Linked DNA regions of Homo sapiens. The protein of the gene in region 1 interacts with the protein of each later gene in a biochemical or structural test. Each region holds a gene or a part of one and is shown in the gene's direction. Other genes may lie near its edges.

The links. Proteins that work in one complex are often made in the same cells at the same time.
Region 2: the proteins of ALK (region 1) and PTN form a complex in vitro, tested with the Homo sapiens proteins (one study listed by BioGRID).

What each region holds. Positions count from the first base shown.
Region 1 is NC_000002.12:29,919,393-29,923,139, reverse strand, and holds the start of ALK (ALK tyrosine kinase receptor isoform 1 precursor), read left to right. Parts: upstream 1-1,553; 5' UTR 1,554-2,480; coding exon 2,481-3,147; intron 3,148-3,747. UniProt on the Homo sapiens protein: Neuronal receptor tyrosine kinase that is essentially and transiently expressed in specific regions of the central and peripheral nervous systems and plays an important role in the genesis and differentiation of the nervous system.
Region 2 is NC_000007.14:137,341,710-137,345,456, reverse strand, and holds the start of PTN (pleiotrophin isoform 1 precursor), read left to right. Parts: upstream 1-1,723; 5' UTR 1,724-2,018; intron 2,019-3,747.

The sequences.
Region 1 (3,747 bases):
ATGAAAATCAAACATATATTGTACCAGGAAAGTATTAACTACCATAGCATTTTCCTCCCTCTTTTCTTTCTTTTCCACCCTTCCTCCACCAAGATAGGAGCATATTTTCTTCTCGGGTGAGATAATTCTTTGCCCTGAAACTTGTAAAGTCAGTGTATCCAGTGTGACTTCCAGAGAGAGGGCAGATGCCTGTCAAATTAAGTGAGTTGCCAAACATAGAGCAGGAAGAAAGCCATTCCGAGAATCAATATTCCTTTGTTACTGGGTCTTCCACTTGCCAAGGCATTGCCACAAAGCTGGAAAGGCCCAGCTCCTAGGAGAACAGAGGTTCCACCTGGCCACTATCTCCTGTGGGGTGGTAGGCAAGTTACTGCGGCCCCCAGGAGCTCAGTGAGGGAGGTTCAATGTGACACTGTGCTCTGATCCTGTGAGAAAACTCCTGTGCTACCCGACAGGCCGTGAGCTCCAGAGAGGATCTTGCCTTATTCTTAGCTTCAACAGTCAGCCCAAGGCCTGACAACCAGCCTTTAAGAAGGAATCAAGGGGATTTGTGTGACCCAAAGATGGTAGTTTTGTCTGAGGATCTAGTGAACCACTTGTTATAAAAACAGCTATTATGAGTTCTGTGTTGGCAGCTCAGGAGAGACGAAAGGAAAGGGAGAGGAGAGGTACAGCCATTACAGGTGAGTAAAAAAGGCCTAAGGTTCTGAACCCTCATTCCCAAGATTGTGGGCAAACAATTAAATGCTCTGCAACTCAGTTTCTGCATCTGTAAATCTGGAATTAAAATGTTTGCCTTACAGAGACTAGGGGAGGTTACACATGTTCAGACACCATTCTGAGAAAACAGAGCGACTGACAGGGGTCTGAAAGGTATTTGTTGTAGCTGCAGAACAACTCTGCCAGACCAAGACCATCCATCCCTCTCTGCCCCCCTATTCCCAAATTCTCCTGTGTGGACGGCAGGACTCCTAAGCTCCCAGGAATGCATTCAAATAATAGATGGGTCAGAAAATATTCTGTCTCAGGGCCTTAATACAAGCTGTTCTCAGATTTGCCAGTGTCGCGCTGCCACCCTCTCCCCACTTCCTCCTCCCTTCCCACTCCCCCCTCCCTTCCCCTCTCCTCCAGTTTTATTCTGGAACCTGTTTTTCCGAAGTCGGACCCGTTTAATCTCTTAAATGTATAATTAGGGAGAGTGCTTGATTGCAAAGGCCTCTTCCAGTTCTCACATTTGCTCCCTTTCACACTGCAGAGAAATAGGGCAGGGAATCTAGAGGAGGGGAAGAACAAGAGACTGGAGAGGGAACAGAGGGAGGGTGGGGCGGGCTCACTCCTTTTCTCAATGAATGCCGAGGCCTCTGCAGATTTGCATAGGAGCCGATCGAGCCACGCCATTGGTTGGAGGGTGCGGGTGGGGCGGGGCGAGGCCGGACTGCGTGGGTCGGGCAGCAGCGCGGAGTTGGCTTGTGAGCCCCGCCCCCTCCGGGCCCCGCCCCCTCCCTGCGCGCGCTCGCGCGGCTCAGCCAGCTGCAAGTGGCGGGCGCCCAGGCAGATGCGATCCAGCGGCTCTGGGGGCGGCAGCGGTGGTAGCAGCTGGTACCTCCCGCCGCCTCTGTTCGGAGGGTCGCGGGGCACCGAGGTGCTTTCCGGCCGCCCTCTGGTCGGCCACCCAAAGCCGCGGGCGCTGATGATGGGTGAGGAGGGGGCGGCAAGATTTCGGGCGCCCCTGCCCTGAACGCCCTCAGCTGCTGCCGCCGGGGCCGCTCCAGTGCCTGCGAACTCTGAGGAGCCGAGGCGCCGGTGAGAGCAAGGACGCTGCAAACTTGCGCAGCGCGGGGGCTGGGATTCACGCCCAGAAGTTCAGCAGGCAGACAGTCCGAAGCCTTCCCGCAGCGGAGAGATAGCTTGAGGGTGCGCAAGACGGCAGCCTCCGCCCTCGGTTCCCGCCCAGACCGGGCAGAAGAGCTTGGAGGAGCCAAAAGGAACGCAAAAGGCGGCCAGGACAGCGTGCAGCAGCTGGGAGCCGCCGTTCTCAGCCTTAAAAGTTGCAGAGATTGGAGGCTGCCCCGAGAGGGGACAGACCCCAGCTCCGACTGCGGGGGGCAGGAGAGGACGGTACCCAACTGCCACCTCCCTTCAACCATAGTAGTTCCTCTGTACCGAGCGCAGCGAGCTACAGACGGGGGCGCGGCACTCGGCGCGGAGAGCGGGAGGCTCAAGGTCCCAGCCAGTGAGCCCAGTGTGCTTGAGTGTCTCTGGACTCGCCCCTGAGCTTCCAGGTCTGTTTCATTTAGACTCCTGCTCGCCTCCGTGCAGTTGGGGGAAAGCAAGAGACTTGCGCGCACGCACAGTCCTCTGGAGATCAGGTGGAAGGAGCCGCTGGGTACCAAGGACTGTTCAGAGCCTCTTCCCATCTCGGGGAGAGCGAAGGGTGAGGCTGGGCCCGGAGAGCAGTGTAAACGGCCTCCTCCGGCGGGATGGGAGCCATCGGGCTCCTGTGGCTCCTGCCGCTGCTGCTTTCCACGGCAGCTGTGGGCTCCGGGATGGGGACCGGCCAGCGCGCGGGCTCCCCAGCTGCGGGGCCGCCGCTGCAGCCCCGGGAGCCACTCAGCTACTCGCGCCTGCAGAGGAAGAGTCTGGCAGTTGACTTCGTGGTGCCCTCGCTCTTCCGTGTCTACGCCCGGGACCTACTGCTGCCACCATCCTCCTCGGAGCTGAAGGCTGGCAGGCCCGAGGCCCGCGGCTCGCTAGCTCTGGACTGCGCCCCGCTGCTCAGGTTGCTGGGGCCGGCGCCGGGGGTCTCCTGGACCGCCGGTTCACCAGCCCCGGCAGAGGCCCGGACGCTGTCCAGGGTGCTGAAGGGCGGCTCCGTGCGCAAGCTCCGGCGTGCCAAGCAGTTGGTGCTGGAGCTGGGCGAGGAGGCGATCTTGGAGGGTTGCGTCGGGCCCCCCGGGGAGGCGGCTGTGGGGCTGCTCCAGTTCAATCTCAGCGAGCTGTTCAGTTGGTGGATTCGCCAAGGCGAAGGGCGACTGAGGATCCGCCTGATGCCCGAGAAGAAGGCGTCGGAAGTGGGCAGAGAGGGAAGGCTGTCCGCGGCAATTCGCGCCTCCCAGCCCCGCCTTCTCTTCCAGATCTTCGGGACTGGTGAGCAGCTCCCGCCTGAGTGTGCCGGGATTTAGTGTTTTTAGTCACATTGATATGCAACCATTAAATAATCTTCACTTCCACCCCACTTTCTAAAACCTCAGCTCTGCTTCATCGCCCTCCTTCCTCCCGCAAACCTCCTTCCCGAATCAGACCGTAGTTTCTTGTTTTCTCCCTGAACGCAGTTCAGGGGTCTTCCTTCCTCTTTAGCAACCAAGTTGGGGGAAAAGTTTCATACTCTTGGCAGAGCGCCTTCTTCTCTGGACTTATACGCTGTCCGAGACAAAATTGGGCGCCCCTCTTCCTGGGCCCCGGGACAGTTGAAATGCCCCGATTACTTCCAGGTTCCAAGCTTAGTAGTAGATGTCAAAACTATTGCCCTTCTCTCCCTCTTGTTCCTGGCCAGCACAGATTTGGGAAATATGGTACCTTCTCAGGGAATATAGAATTTCTCTTCATATTATTGAATCTCACCCAACTGTCCCCATTCCAAACGTTGGCTTGGGCAGGTATTGCCAGGGATTGTCTCTTCTTTATTTATTTATTCTCCCCCTCCCACCCCCACCCAGTCTGCTATGCACTCTCGACTCATCCTTTCTC
Region 2 (3,747 bases), on another chromosome or scaffold:
ATCTGAATAAAGGGTGATATTTTTGGTGTAACATATGTAATTGAGTAGAAATCATGGGAATCTCATGCTTACTTTATCAGCCCTATAGAGAACACCTCAATCAAGCCAGCATTGTTCACCTAACTGGTAGCTAGCTGTATGTTACATTTGTATATGTTAACATAAAGCTGAAGAACAGAAAGAAAATGGATAGCTCTTTGTTCAATGCCTTAGAAACTTTGCCCCTATGGAGTGTTAATAGAATGCTGAGATATCTTTTTTGGTAAAGGGACTGGGAAAAATGCCAAAAAAAAATGCTAATGTGCGTTTCTCCACACTTTATACAGGTGAAATCTGATTAAAACAAGCACTGCTTGCTTCACACAGAAGTGGAATCACAAAAGGAAAACAGGTAACCTGAAGCCTGTGTGTAGGAGAAAGGAACACAGCTTCCTTATTTAGTTATTTCATTTGAGAATTGTATGTGGTATGTATATGAAGAGTTTGGGAAGGGGGATAAATTGTAGGTGTGTAAGTGCATCTCTGATGCCTTTCCTTTTGAAAAGCTTGATTGACTGCTTGATTGAGTTTGTAGAGCCACGTCTGGCTCCAGTCAACTTCTCCAAGGGACATTTCTACAGGTAGCTGTCAATAGAAGAGCCCCAAGTCCCTAAAAACTACTTGCCACAAGACAATGCTTCTAATTTGGGGATTTAAGGATAGTTCTAAGTAAACAAATTGCTTAATAAATATTTGTCAAATTGAAATGAAGGGATGTAACCTCAGAATTATGAAAAATGTGGTCTATTTTACAACCAATTTGGGAAGGACGCCATCAAATGATAAGCTGACCAGTAAAGGTAAAAGTAGGTAAAAGGAGCTAGCCACGGAGCAGGAAAAGCTGATAAGTGGCAGAAAATCTCGAAATTTACATTTCGAAAATGTTTGGGTGAATTTGTATAATACATCTTAATCCTTTTACACAATACTTTTATCTCATCTTTATCATAAATATTTACCTATGCATTGCCTTAGCGTCTTTCCTGTATTGAATGAAATGACAATTCCAGAGACGCAAAGCCCAGCCTCCAAGTTTTACAAACCTCAGAGTTTGAGCTACTTTGACGAATCCTCTAAATTCTTGGGTGTCAAAGGCATGTTACTAAATAGGTTGCTAAAGGCACCAAGGAAACCAAAAAAGGAAAGAGCTCTCCCTAAAGGTAAGTAGCACTTAATTGGGAACTTTGAGACGTCTGTCACTCTTTGTGACAATTGAGAAAAAGTACTTTGTACATTTTGTGCTTTGCAGGTGAGATGTGACTGACACCTTACTGTCTCTGTGTTTAGAGAGGGCTTTCGTGGGTGGAAGAAGAGGCTGGTTTGAAGAGAGTGCTTTTCCATTCTGAATATCATTAAAGGATTGTGGGGGGCCAAAAATGTAACCTAAAATGCCATCAATTGTCCATTTAAAATATCCTATTTGGCAAAGTGGCTTTGCACTCATCTGAAGAATAGATCATGGGTGGAGTTTGGAAAAGAAATGTTGTGTTTCGTCTCTGCTAAAAACAAAACAAGGTACCATCTCATGGCCTCTTGGTTCAAATCCGTTTTCTTGCTCCGCAGGGAGAGACTGCCCCTGGAGTATTCTGCTTTTAATAAGCTTCCCAATCAGCTCTCGAGTGCAAAGCGCTCTCCCTCCCTCGCCCAGCCTTCGTCCTCCTGGCCCGCTCCTCTCATCCCTCCCATTCTCCATTTCCCTTCCGTTCCCTCCCTGTCAGGGCGTAATTGAGTCAAAGGCAGGATCAGGTTCCCCGCCTTCCAGTCCAAAAATCCCGCCAAGAGAGCCCCAGAGCAGAGGAAAATCCAAAGTGGAGAGAGGGGAAGAAAGAGACCAGTGAGTCATCCGTCCAGAAGGCGGGGAGAGCAGCAGCGGCCCAAGCAGGAGCTGCAGCGAGCCGGGTACCTGGACTCAGCGGTAGCAACCTCGCCCCTTGCAACAAAGGCAGACTGAGCGCCAGAGAGGACGTTTCCAACTCAAAGTAAGTGAGAGGAACGTACGATTTCTCGGAGGGCTCTTCGATCGAGTTTGCCTTCACCCTGTGCCACTTTTCTGGGTGCCAGCAGATGATGGTGGTAGGGGTGAGAGAGGCTGCCTGGTGTCTTTGCTGATAGGACTGCTTTCAAAACTGACTTGCTCCAGAGGCCAAGGGAGGCATATTTTTGGGGTTTCAGGTTAGGTTAGTTCGGGTGTGCTTAGGTAAGTGAAAGGAAAGAAGTTTTTGTGATGTTAAGCATGTATTTGGACCGTGTTCCAGCTACCAGCTGGAGAGCAAGACAGGGTGGGCTGGAGAGTGCATCTTTGCTTTTTGTAAAACCTGGAGCTTTAGTAGGTGTGTCTCTGGCTGGGTAGGTGCAAAGAAAGTAAGGCAGCCTGAACAAGCAGCTCTCATTTTCCCAGCCTCTCTCTGATTCTCTGATTGCCCCAGAGCCTGTCAGCCCATGACTCTTAGCTGGCATTTCTAGGTAAGCTGTGGGGGCTTGTTCCTCCCAGTGCTAGCTGACATGAAACGTCTCTCACGGAACTACTGGCACCCGTCTTCCCACCTGACAGCCCAGGAATGGTTCCAGAAATGGTTAGGTCCAAAGTTTAGAAGACACACCTGGAGTCCCATCTCTCATTTGAATGCAAATTTAAAGAACTGCCCAGTACATAGACCCTTAAACTTTTAATTTGACCCACATAAATTTAGGATATATTTGTTACTAATTTACTAGATATTTAGAGTTTCTGAGTTGTTGTTTCTAATAAGTTAAGAAAACATTTTTTGAGAGGAATGTATTCAACTCCTTTCTTAATAGATGGAAAGTGAAACCTCCTCTCTCCTCTCCATACACACACACCCCTTTCTCCATGACATAATGTGACACAACACACACACACACACACACAGGAACACACACATGCAGTTTATATACACTCTAGTGTTAACTCACCCTTGTGTCTGTTAAGAGCTGCTTTGTAAGTTTGGGGACACATTCAGAAAATAGGAGGGGTAGGGGTGCTAAGAGGAGAAAATATTAAAGCTGCGGTCCTTGAGCATCTCTCATTTTAAGAGTTATCAGGCATTTTGCTTTAGCAGCTTGAGAAAGGGGTGATGTGTGTGTGTGCGTGTGCATGTGCGTGTGTGTGTGCTAGAGAGAGGGGTCTGGGAGGAGATTTAGAAATCACCAAAAAGAGCTCTGGACTAATAACATAATGAAACATTTTATGATCCTAGGCAAATGTGGAATTGATGAAACAGCAGGGCCCATTTTAGCCCCTTAATTATCCGGGAATGCATTGATATGTAGAAATATTGAAAGTTAATGACAATGAAACAAAAGAGAAGTCTCCCAACACAGAAAATAAAGCTGTATTTTCCATCTTCATTATGTTTCCTTTTAAGTAAATTATGCACTTTAAAGGCCAAGTCGTTTAAAAAATATAGTCCAGTTAAATTCAGAGGAAATTAGAATGAATATTTTTTTCTTCCTTTGGGACATGAGTTATTTCAGACTGGCAATATTTGTACTTTTTCATTTAAATTAGAAGATGAGATTTTAAAAAATTATATTATTTAAAAAAAACTCTAATGCCATCCTTTTGTGCTTTAAGAAACTTGGGCCTTAAGTTCTCTAATTGTACTTTAAATAAATAGAAGGTGATCTTTTTTCTGCCACTGCTCACTGGTTCCCTTTAGGACATCTTTTTCTGCATTTAGTGAAAAG